Linked DNA regions of Homo sapiens: region 1 is linked to region 2. Evidence: fine-mapped expression QTL. A gene starts in region 2. The other region holds a variant in brackets. All regions are shown on one strand. Distances are between the middles of the regions. Region 1 overlaps TEP1 (telomerase associated protein 1). Region 2 holds the start of CCNB1IP1 (cyclin B1 interacting protein 1).

Region 1 (5,382 bases), 33 kb before region 2:
CCCAAACTCCAGGGACAGACCCATCTACCTGCAGGGAATCTGATGCCAGCATGGATAGTGATGCCAGCATGGATAGTGAGCCAACACCACATCTAAAGACACGGCAGCGTAGAAAGGTGAGTTTGAAGGAAGGGTCAGAAATACTAGGGGAGGGCTGGGAGCAGTGGCTCACACCTATAATCCCAGCACTTTGGGAGGCCTAGGCGGGCAGATAATGAGGTCAGGAGATCAAGACCATCCTGGCTAACACGGTGAAACCCCATCTCTACTAAAAAATACAAAAAATTAGCTGGGCGTGGTGGCGGGTGCCTGTAGTCCCAGCTACTCGGGAGTCTGAGGCAGGAGAATGGTGTGAACCCGGGAGGCAGAGCTTGCGGTGAGCCGAGATTGCGCCACTGCACTCCAGCCTGGGCGACAGAGCGAGACTCTTGTCTCAAAAAAAAAAAAAAGAAATACTAAGGGAGGAGGGCTGTAGGTCTGACACAGCACATTGTGATGCTTCTCTGAGGAGGGGCCCCTGAGAACTCACCATTCTGCTCTCCCCTTTCCTCTTTGAGATTCACTCGGGCTCTGTCACAGCCCTCCATGTGCTACCTGAGTTGCTGGTGACAGCTTCGAAGGACAGAGATGTTAAGCTATGGGAGAGACCCAGTATGCAGCTGGTAAGTGTGTGTGTGTGTGTGTGTGTGTGTGTGCGTGCGCCTGCACACCTATCCCAAAGGGATGTCACAAGACAGCAAACTTAGAGTAAGAAAGGGCAAAAGATCAAAATTCTGTTTTCTTCAATCACTTGCAATGTATGACTAACCTGTTTCTAAATAAAAGGCATTAATGTGAGAAAAAATAAGTTAGTAAGGAGGCTTGTAGCCCTGACCTCCCCTATTTTTGTTCCCATCGTAGCTGGGCCTGTTCCGATGCGAAGGGTCAGTGAGCTGCCTGGAACCTTGGCTGGGCGCTAACTCCACCCTGCAGCTTGCCGTGGGAGACGTGCAGGGCAATGTGTACTTTCTGAATTGGGAATGAAGATGTGCCACTCGGGAATAATGATACCCCTTGTGCTAGAGATGCAAAGCCTGAAGACACTGGTAGCTTTTAATAATTATAAAATTAATAATTTCTTGATAATTATAAAAATGAAGTGTCAAAAAATCTCAAGTGTAGGCCTGCCTGTGTTCTCATGTGGATTTAGAACAGGAGGATATTCTATGTGTATGTATATGTACATTCTAATGTGTGTCTCTTCTTATTCAACATTAATCCTTACTAGAACCACAAGAAAGTGAATGAAATCTTTAGTAGGTACTCTTTTGAAACTAGGTTTTAGAATTCTTGCATCACTCGCGGGCCCTAGGACCCTAGGATGCCATTCTTGCCAGGAGGAGGAATGAGAGTGATGTTGGCCAACATTCAATTTGAACAGAGCATGGAAGACCTTTCAGTTCATCGGGAAAGAATGAGGGAGGGAGAATAAGTCAGTCATGCATCAGGGCATTTAGAAAGAGCTATGTTTCTGTCACAGAGACAGCCCTTTTCTCAGAACTACCCAGAGGAGGCCGGGCATGGTGGCTCACGCTTGTAATCCCAGCACTTTGGGAGGCCGAGGTGGGCAGATCACGAGGTCAGGAGATCAAGACCATCCTGGCTAACATAGTGAAACCCTGTCTCTACTAAAAAATACAAAAAGTTAGCCAGGTGTGGCGGCGGGCACCTGTAGTCCCAGCTACTTGGGAGGCTGAGGCAGGAGAATGGCGTGAACCCAGGAGGCGGAGCTTGCAGTGAGCCGAGACACCACTGCACTCCAGCCTGGGCAACAGAGCGAGACTCTGTCTAAAAAAAAAAAAAAAGAACTACCCAGATGAGAGGTGAGGAGCCAAGCCATTGAAAGCGGAACAAACCTTCTGGTTTTCCCAACTTCTGACACGACTTTCAACTTTAGTCAATATGGTAATTGGCATTCTCAGAAGAGATCACGAAAGTGTCTTACTCTCTCTCAAATTGAAATTCACAAAGATTAAAACTAATTGAGAGGTGGCACAATCATAGCCATGAACTCTGATTTTCTTAAGTAAAAAACCTTTTTTTTTTTTTTTTGTTTTTGAGATAGAGTCTGGCTCTGTCACCTAGGCTGGAGTGCAATGGTGCAATCTCAGCTCAGTGCAACCTCTGCTTCCTGGGTTCAAGCGATTCTCCTGCCTTAGCCTCCCGAGTAGCTGGGATTACAGGTGCCCACCACCACGCCCAGCTAATTTTTGTATTTCAGTAGAGACGAAGTTTCACCATGTTGGCCAGGTGGGTCTCAAACTCCTGACCTCAGGTTATCTGCACACCTCAGCCTCTTAAAGTTCTGGGATTACAGGCGTGAGCCATTGTGCCCGGCCCATAAAAGAACTTTATTATATTTCTAAAATTCAATCATATGGAAGAATCTATTGAGCAGGTTAGCCTTTGCTTAACTTTCCTCCTCTGTTACTCCAGCCTTAGCTGGGGTGTTTTGTAGAATTTTCAGAGCATGGGAGACAGACAACTAGAGCTTCCTCCTGCCCTTGGCCCATGCTTTTAGGAGAGCAAAAGGCAAAAGATTGAAACCACTGACTTTAGTTTCCTCAGGCCCTTTCTTTCTGAGGGTTAAAGAAGAAGGAAATGTCTTCTGTGGCCAAGAATTCAAGGACTTGTAGGAGATAAGTGAAGGCTATTACAGGGATTTTGTCCTGGTTTGGTAGGTTTCTCTTGGAGAAATACCACTACACCCTGGTCTAGAAATGAGTTTTGAAGACTTGGGGAGTTAAAGGGCACTGAGTTTTACTCTCAC[T/C]GTACCCTGATTCCAGGTTTTACATGGAGAAATAACCTGAGGGACTTTATTTCTATCCAATGCCCTGGTTTCCATCCTGACCAGAGGATGATGACATCCGCTGATAGGCCATGCTTCTGTCTTCTCTTATGTGCCTCATGCCAAGCCTCGAAATATACCTTCTGGACCATCATTTCCACATCTACCTTGTGACTAGAAGTCCTAGTTATGGTATTTTGAAATTTATGATCCATAATCCTTGCCAGAAATCCTGCAGCGAACTATGGCATGGCATCATCCTAGTCATTGATTTCAATCTTTTGCCTTTTGCTCCCCTAAAATCTTGGGCCAATTGCAGGAGGAAGCTCTATTTGTCTCTCTTCCATGCTCTGAAAATTATATAAAAGCATCCCAGCTAAGGCTGGAGTGAAGGGGTTGGGGAAAGTTAAGCAAAGGCTAACTTGACCAATAGGCTCAATAGATTCAGTCTTGTTGGCCAGGCCCACTTGAAGGGTTTTTTGTTTCATCTTGGAGAAGGACAGTGAGGTCATGGTATAATTGTTATGAGTAAAGTCAAGAACAGCTTCTAGGTAAAAGTAATTATGTACCCAAAAGGAGTTGAAGGGAAAATCAATTTAGGTTTACATTAAACATCCTTCAAGTTCTTATCTTTAAATGGAGTTTCAGTGTCTCCCAAAGGCTGGATGAGTTTTACAGTTATAACCACTGGATTGTGAGACCATAGGACATTTGAACAATCTTTTCTTCTACCCATCTAGAAAAGCATCTTTTTTATATACCAAATTTTTACACATATATCCACATCTGTTTTTGAAATCTAGAGCAGAGGTACTCAAAGTTTGGTTCATGGACTAGTGCCAGTTCACAAATTGTTAATGTTTTATAATGAGATAAGTACGGAAGTTGAGAGTAACCATTTAGAAACTGTGTAGGAATTTAAAAAGTAATATCTGACAAATTTAATAATAAAAATGGAGGCTTGTATTTTGTGTGCTTTTTAATTTCATTTTCTTAATAATCCATTTTGATTATATTTTATAAAAGTATTATTCCGTGACAGATAAGAAATTAAAACAGGCCAGGCACGGTGGCTCACGCCTATAATCCCAGCACTTTGAAAGGCCAAGGCGGGTGGATCACCTGGGGTCTGGAGTTCGAGGCGAGCCTGGCCAATATGGTGAAACCCCGTCTCTACTAAAAATACAAAAAATTAGCTGGGCATGGTGGCAGGCACCTGTAATCCCAGCTACTTGGGGGGCTGAGGCAGGAGAATCGCTTGAACTCAGGGGGCAGAGGTTGCAGTGAGCCGAGATCGCATCATTGCACTCCAGGCTGGGCAACAAGAATGAAACTTGGTCAAAAAAAAAAAAAAAAGAAAAAAAAGAAAGCAAGAAAGAGAGAGGGAGGGCGGGAGGGAGGCAGGAAGGAAGAAAGAAAGACAAAGGAACAATTAGTCCTTCATCTCAGAAGGTTTGAGAAGCACTACTCTAGAGAGACTGGGTAACAGCAGCAAAAAGCATGGACTTGGAATAAGACTGCCTGAGTTCAAATCTTCATGCCTCCTTTCCCCCATTTGTACAACAGCCATAATAATGGTGCTTACTTCATGGGAGTGTTTTAAGGACTAAATGAGTTAAGGTGTAAAACACAGAACAGTGACACTTTTGTGGTAAGTATTCAATAAGTGCTAACTTGACTGTTCTTTTTGTTACCTAGCAGTACGAGTATCACCTCATTATTCTTTCTCATAAATGTCTTATTTATTAGTATATATTTAATCAATCAGAAAATCTGGACCGAATTTTTTAGTTTTCAAAAAAATGTGAAACTCGTATTCTTTCTAAGTTCAGGGGTACAAGTGCAGGTCTGTTACATAGGTAAACTTGTGTCATGGAGGTTTGTTGTACAGTTTATTTCATCACCCGGGTATTAAGCCTAGTACCCATTAGTTGTTTTTCTTGATCTTCTCCCTCCTCCCACCCTCCAAATACCTAATCTTCTCATCCAGAACGATGGGTATGTTTCTTTATCAGTTAAAATATTAAAGTTATGCTATCATAACAACCCCAAAATCTCAACAACTTAAAATAGCAAAGATTTATTTCTAAATCATGCCACATGGCCCGTTAAGGGTCAGCGAGAAGGCCCTGCTCTACTTTGCGCATATTTTGAGCTCTGTGCTTCACGTGGCGAGTAACTCTTCAATCTTCCACTTGGAAATAAAACACATCACTTCCACTCATATTTAATAAATACAAGCAAAGCAAGTCACGTGGCCATACCTAATGTCAAGGGATGGGGAGGAAGTATCCTACGATGTGTCTGAAAGAAGAACCAGGAGCCAATACACAGATGACATCCCCAAAGAACATATCTGTGTTGGTGCTTTCCCACTAGAATGGCTCTTAATCCTTCTTTTTTAATAATGTAAGATTTAGGCTGGGCGCAGTGGCTCAAGCCTGTAATCCCAGCACTTTGGGAGGCTGAGGAGAGCAGATCACCTGAGGTCAGGGGTTCAAGACCAGTCTGGCCAGCATGGTGAAACCCTGTCTCTATTAAAAATATAAAAATTA
Region 2 (5,382 bases):
GGTGTTCTCCAAAGGGTGAGCCTCAAATCTACCGGAAGTACCTGAGGGTGCTTATTAAAATACATATTCCTGAGTCCCACCCACTGAATTAGAATCTCTGAACGTGTGTCCCAGGAATCTACTTTTTTTTGAAACAGGGTCTCACTCTGTTGCCCAGGCTAGAGTGCAGTGGTGTAAACACAGCTCACTACAACCTCTACCTTCTGGGCTCATGCTCTCTTCCCGACTCAGCCTACCTTAGTAGCTGGGACTATAGAGGCATCACCACTCTTGGCAATTTTTTATTTTTATTGTTTGTAGAGACAGTTGTTTTACCATGCTGCCCAGGCTGCCCTCAAACTCTTGGGCTCAAGCGCTCCTTCTGCCTCCACCTACCAAGTATTGGGACTACAGATGTGACCTACCACACCTGGCCCCAGGAATCTATCGACTTTTAAACAATTTCAAAGTTATTTTACAGAGCACAAAATTTTGATGTTACCAGCTGAAGAGAATTTCATCATGGATTATTATAAGTATTAAAGCCTGGAATACAGAATATCATAAAGAAATGTTAGATATTTAATGGGAATTTGAAAAGAATATTGTACTTTCTAAGGTTTTCTGAAATCACACAATATAGGAAGCAGTGCAATGTGGTGGTTGAGTTTGGGCTGTCAAGTTGGATGGCTGCTGTCTCAGTTTGTTTTCTGTTGCTTATAACAGAATACCTGAAACTGGGTCACTTATTTATTAGTTTGTTTTTTAATTAATTTATTTTTTGGATACAAAGTCTTGCTCTGTCTCCCAGGCTGGAGTATAGCGGTACTCCAAACCTACACCTCATTAGTTCAAGCGATTCTCCTGCCTCGGCCTCCCAAGTAGCTGGGATTACAGGTGTGCACCACCATGCCTGGCTAATTTTTTGTATTTTTAGTAGAGATGGGGTTTCGACATGTTGGCCAGGCTGGTCTCGAACTCCTGGCTTCAAGAGATCCACCTGCTTCGGCCTCCCAAAGTGCTAGGATTACAGGTCTAAGCCATCACACCAAGCCTGGTTTATTTATTTATTTAGTTAGTTTTTGAGACAGGGCCTCACTCTGTCACTCAGGCTGGACTGCAGTGGCACAATCTTGGTTCACTGCAACCTCCGCCTCCCGGGTTCAAGTGATCGATCCTCCCACCTCAGCTTCCTGAGTAGCTGGGACTACAAGCCCATACCACCATGCTCAGCTAATTTTTGTATTTTTAGTAGAGACGAGGTTTTGCCATGTTGGCTAGGCTGTGGGGTAATTTATTTTAAAAAAGAAATTTATTTTTTGCAGTTATGGATGCTGTGAAGTCCAAGGTTAAGGACTGCCTCTGGGTTGCATCTGAACTCCTTCTTGCTGGAGGGGACTCGCTGTGATGTTCCAAGGCGTGGCAGGAAATCACATGGCCAGGATGCTGAGACTGCTAACATGCTATCCTTAAGTCTCTTTGCCTTTTCTTTAAAGCCACTAGTTCCCCTCCCATGATAACCTATTAATCCATGAATAGATTAATTTATTTATGAGGGCAGAACCCTCATGATCCAGTCACCTCTTGAAGGCCCCACTTCTAATGAGGATTAAGTTTCAGCCACTTTAGGGATTAAGTTTCAACATGAATTTTGTAAAAGGTGAAAGATTTATGCGATATGAAGAGAAACTAGAGTGACAACATGAATTTTGAAGGGGACAGTCAAACCATAGCAACTGGGATCTGAATCCTGACTTTACCACTTGCTAAATAGACAAATTCCTTAATCTCTATAACTCTGTTTCCTTTTTTTTTTTTTTTTTTTTGGTGAAATAGTTATAATGAAAGTGCTTACATTCTTGGGTTAATGTGAAGATTAAACAAGGTAATGAATATTACATTTCTTGAATATTTATAGTAAACATTCAAGAAATGTTTTGACTCTAGAAGTTACAATAAATCAATTATGAAATAACAAATTAGCATTTGATGCTAAATGTTGGGAAATTTGGGGCAGGTAAACTCTAAAGTGGATTGGAATAGGTAATTTCTAGTAAGGTGGAAGCAGGGTGGATAGGATGAAATGATTAAAAAATGAGAACTACTATGAGTTAGAGTTGTATCATTTCTCCATATAACTTGAATCTTTATACTTCAAACATTTGCACATTACATGTATATTTGTACATATAACACATACTTGTATATATATTCCCTATTACTATAATAGTATTTATTAAGAATAATGATGAATATTGTGCCGGGGAGTCCTCTAATTATGGCTTAAAAAGAAATCTTTCAGCTTGGGCAACATGGCGAAACCCCATCTCTACAAAAAAATACAAAAATTAGCTGGGTGTGATGGTGCACGCCTGTAGTCCCAGCTACTTACTGAGGCAGGAGATCGCTTGAACCTGGGAGGTCAAGGCTACAGTGAGTCGAGATTTCACCACTGCACTCCAGCCTGGGACACGAAGTGAGACCCTGTTTCAAAAAAAAAAAAAATTTAACAGAGTAAGAACCTATACTTTAACTGGAGGGCGATGTGAGGAGTCAAAATAATTGATTAATCAATTATGTCCTCAGCATTGAAAGTCATTGTTTTTGTCTGGAGATGTGTAAAACGTACACTTTGATCTCCAGTTGTTTATAGTCTACTTGGGAATATAAATCTAACAAGAAATATGTAATAACAATAATAACAGCTAACATTGTTGAGTACTGTGTACCGGGCATTGTACTGAGTACATTATATAAATTATTTTACTTAATCCTCATAACCATCAGAGTAGGAAGATTTCATCTTTTTTCCCTCTTTTTATAGTTGGAACTGAGGCTTAGATGTGTGCAAATAAGTGGCAAGGTTCAGATTCAAAATCAGCTAAATTTTATTTGAAGCCTAAAACACTTAACCCACCTACCTTTTATCTACTAAGCCTGTTAGTTCAAAGATTACCTGAAGGTAAATTTTATCAGGCCAGCTTTGGATCTGGGGGGAAAAAATGAAGGTAAATTTTAACTTGAATCGATCTAGACTGTTTATAATGGAATCTGTTGCCTAGCATAAGTTAAGCATGTTGAGGTCACAAAGGATAAGAAATTACCCTTAAGGGATGAAAATTCTTTAGAATAGAATGCAGTAGGCCCACGCAAACAACAACGTGTATAAATAGCTTAAATTAGCCTGTTTTTGCCTAAGTACATTAACTCAAAAGGAAACTCGGTTTAAGAAGTTCACTCCAAAAATAGTGCAAGAAGCATCACTGGTCCATAAAGAGGGGTGGAGTGGGTTACGTCATTTCAGCACCTTTTAAGGTAAAGGAGGAGGGAATCCTCTTGAACTCATTAGCCAATCAGGTTCTGAAGACACTTCCCAAGGCGACTTCCTGTCTCTCCACTTTCTTTCCCTCTCCGTTTTGGTGGGCTGGTGAGTGTGCGCTTAATTTTGCTCTCTAATTGTTTTGAATTTCTCTTCCATTTGAGTTATATACCCAGGTGGCAGGCCTTTATTTCAAGTCGGCATAGGAGTGTGTGTGAGTCGCAAGGAGATTAATTTCGGCTGTGTGGAGGTTGGGAGAAGGCAGTGAAATGCTCTTCCTGGCTTGTTTCCACGTGGGCCTCTGCAGTACTGGGTTTGCCTTCCGTCTCCGAGTCCTGGTGACCCAGGAACAATAGACTGTGCTTCATGTGCACAGTGCGTGTGTTCTTGGAAAACGCCGGCTTCATTTTGCTTGGCGGGAAAGATATTATCATCCTAATGCTGTTTTGATTTATATCTCCCTGGGTGAGGTCAGATTTCGGGAGAAGGCGTTCAGCTCAGTAGAGTTTAATTCTCCGGTGAGTGTCTAGAGGGCCCAGGTCCTTACTGGGTTTGTGGAAGCTGCAGCGTACCTTGTCTTTCTCCTGGCCTTCGCTCAGATCATTTCGGCTTTCTTGGTGAACCTGGGCAGCAAACTCTGAAGACAGATAAGCCTTAAAAGGAGCTCCTAATTTTTAATGTTGCCACTGTGGTGATTGTGTCCTTAAAAGCTATGGAAAAAGATTAGGGACCTTAGTTCAGGGCAAGCCTCTAGATTTAAATTCCAGCGCCACAGTTTACAGCTCTGGTGACCTTGGGAGAAGCAGTGAGCCATTCCGAGGCTTAGCTTTCCAAGATCAGATAAAATATATAAAAACTAGGCTCTAGTTGGTGTGTAATAAATGTTAGGTACCTTTAGAAGTAAGCAGTACTTATTTATTTACAGCAAGTATTTTGGATATCTGTTTTCTCATAAAAAGTTTGCTTAGTGACCTTCAATGTCATTTCACTGAATTCCTTTCTTTTGGTACATGTTAATTTTAATGTGATGTTTGTGTTGGATATTCTTATAGGCAGAAAGTGTGAGAAAGACAAATAATAAACCAGTTAATCGAATGTAGTAATAGGTATTTGTAGGCCTCCCATAATTTTTATAATTCTCAAGCATTGTTAAAATTTATTTTTTGGGGCATGGCGGCGCATGCCTGTAATCCCAGCTACTCGGGAGGCTGAGGCAGGAGAATCGCTTGAACCCGGGAGGTGGAGGTTGCGGTGAGCCGAGATCGCGCCATTGCACTCCAGCCTGGGCAACAAGAGCGAAACTCTGTCTCAAAAAAAAAAAAAAAAAAAAAAAAATATATATATATATATATATATGTATACACATCATATATATATATATTTTTGAATAGGTAATACATTCACATGGTTCAAAATTCAAAAGATATCAAAGTTTCTTATCCCCTTCCCTAAGCCATCCAATTCCTCTCCCTCATAACAGTGTTACTAAGATATTTTATGCATATAAGCAAATATGTGTAGGTATCCTTCCCTTTTACTATACCTACTCTACTATGTGTCTTACTTTTTCCACTTAAGTTCCATGAGTAGAGTGTTCACATTCTTCATAATGGTAACATAGTATTCTTTAAAAATTATTTTTTTTAAAAAATATATTTTTTCAGTAGGTTTTCAGGGTATAATGGTAACTCAGTATTCTAATTTATGTACCTACTATAATTTATTTAGCTTTTATCAGTAGGTATTCAGATAGTTTATGATCTTGATATTTCCCCCTCAAATGAATAACCTTGTAAATCAGTCAGTTGGCATAAAGGCATTTCAATTGGGTTTTGGTATATTCTTGTTTAAAAGGACTCTAGATATTTTGCAGTGCTTCCTATTTATATTTATTTTGTACACGGTGGTGATTAGAAACCAATCAATACTCTAAACTTGATTGAGCAATAAAGGATTTTCTACCGAAAGGAAAATCATCTTGATGGCTTTTATGTGAATATATCTTTGCCCACTTTGGTTTGAGTGGGGATGGTTTATCTTGTTATGAGCATGTGTTTAATGCTGGGAAGGAGTGACAGCAGTGG

Evidence for each region. PIP is the estimated chance that this variant, and not a neighbour inherited with it, causes the effect.
Region 1: its variant is fine-mapped to the expression of CCNB1IP1 in T cells (TOPMed, PIP 0.97).

Annotation. Positions count from the first base shown.
Region 1 is chr14:20,364,078-20,369,459 of GRCh38, reverse strand. TEP1 (telomerase associated protein 1) reads left to right here. Exons shown (of 55, transcript NM_007110.5): 53 at 1-116; 54 at 558-662; 55 at 901-3,793. The coding sequence ends at 1,023. Among named protein-coding and RNA genes, the nearest start is that of PARP2, 23 kb to the right of the region's middle. The variant T/C (reference allele first, on the strand shown) is at 2,810.
Region 2 is chr14:20,331,278-20,336,659 of GRCh38, reverse strand. It overlaps CCNB1IP1 (cyclin B1 interacting protein 1), which reads left to right and starts at 3,381. Exons shown (of 7, transcript NM_021178.5): 1 at 3,381-3,406. RefSeq lists an enhancer at 3,302-3,611.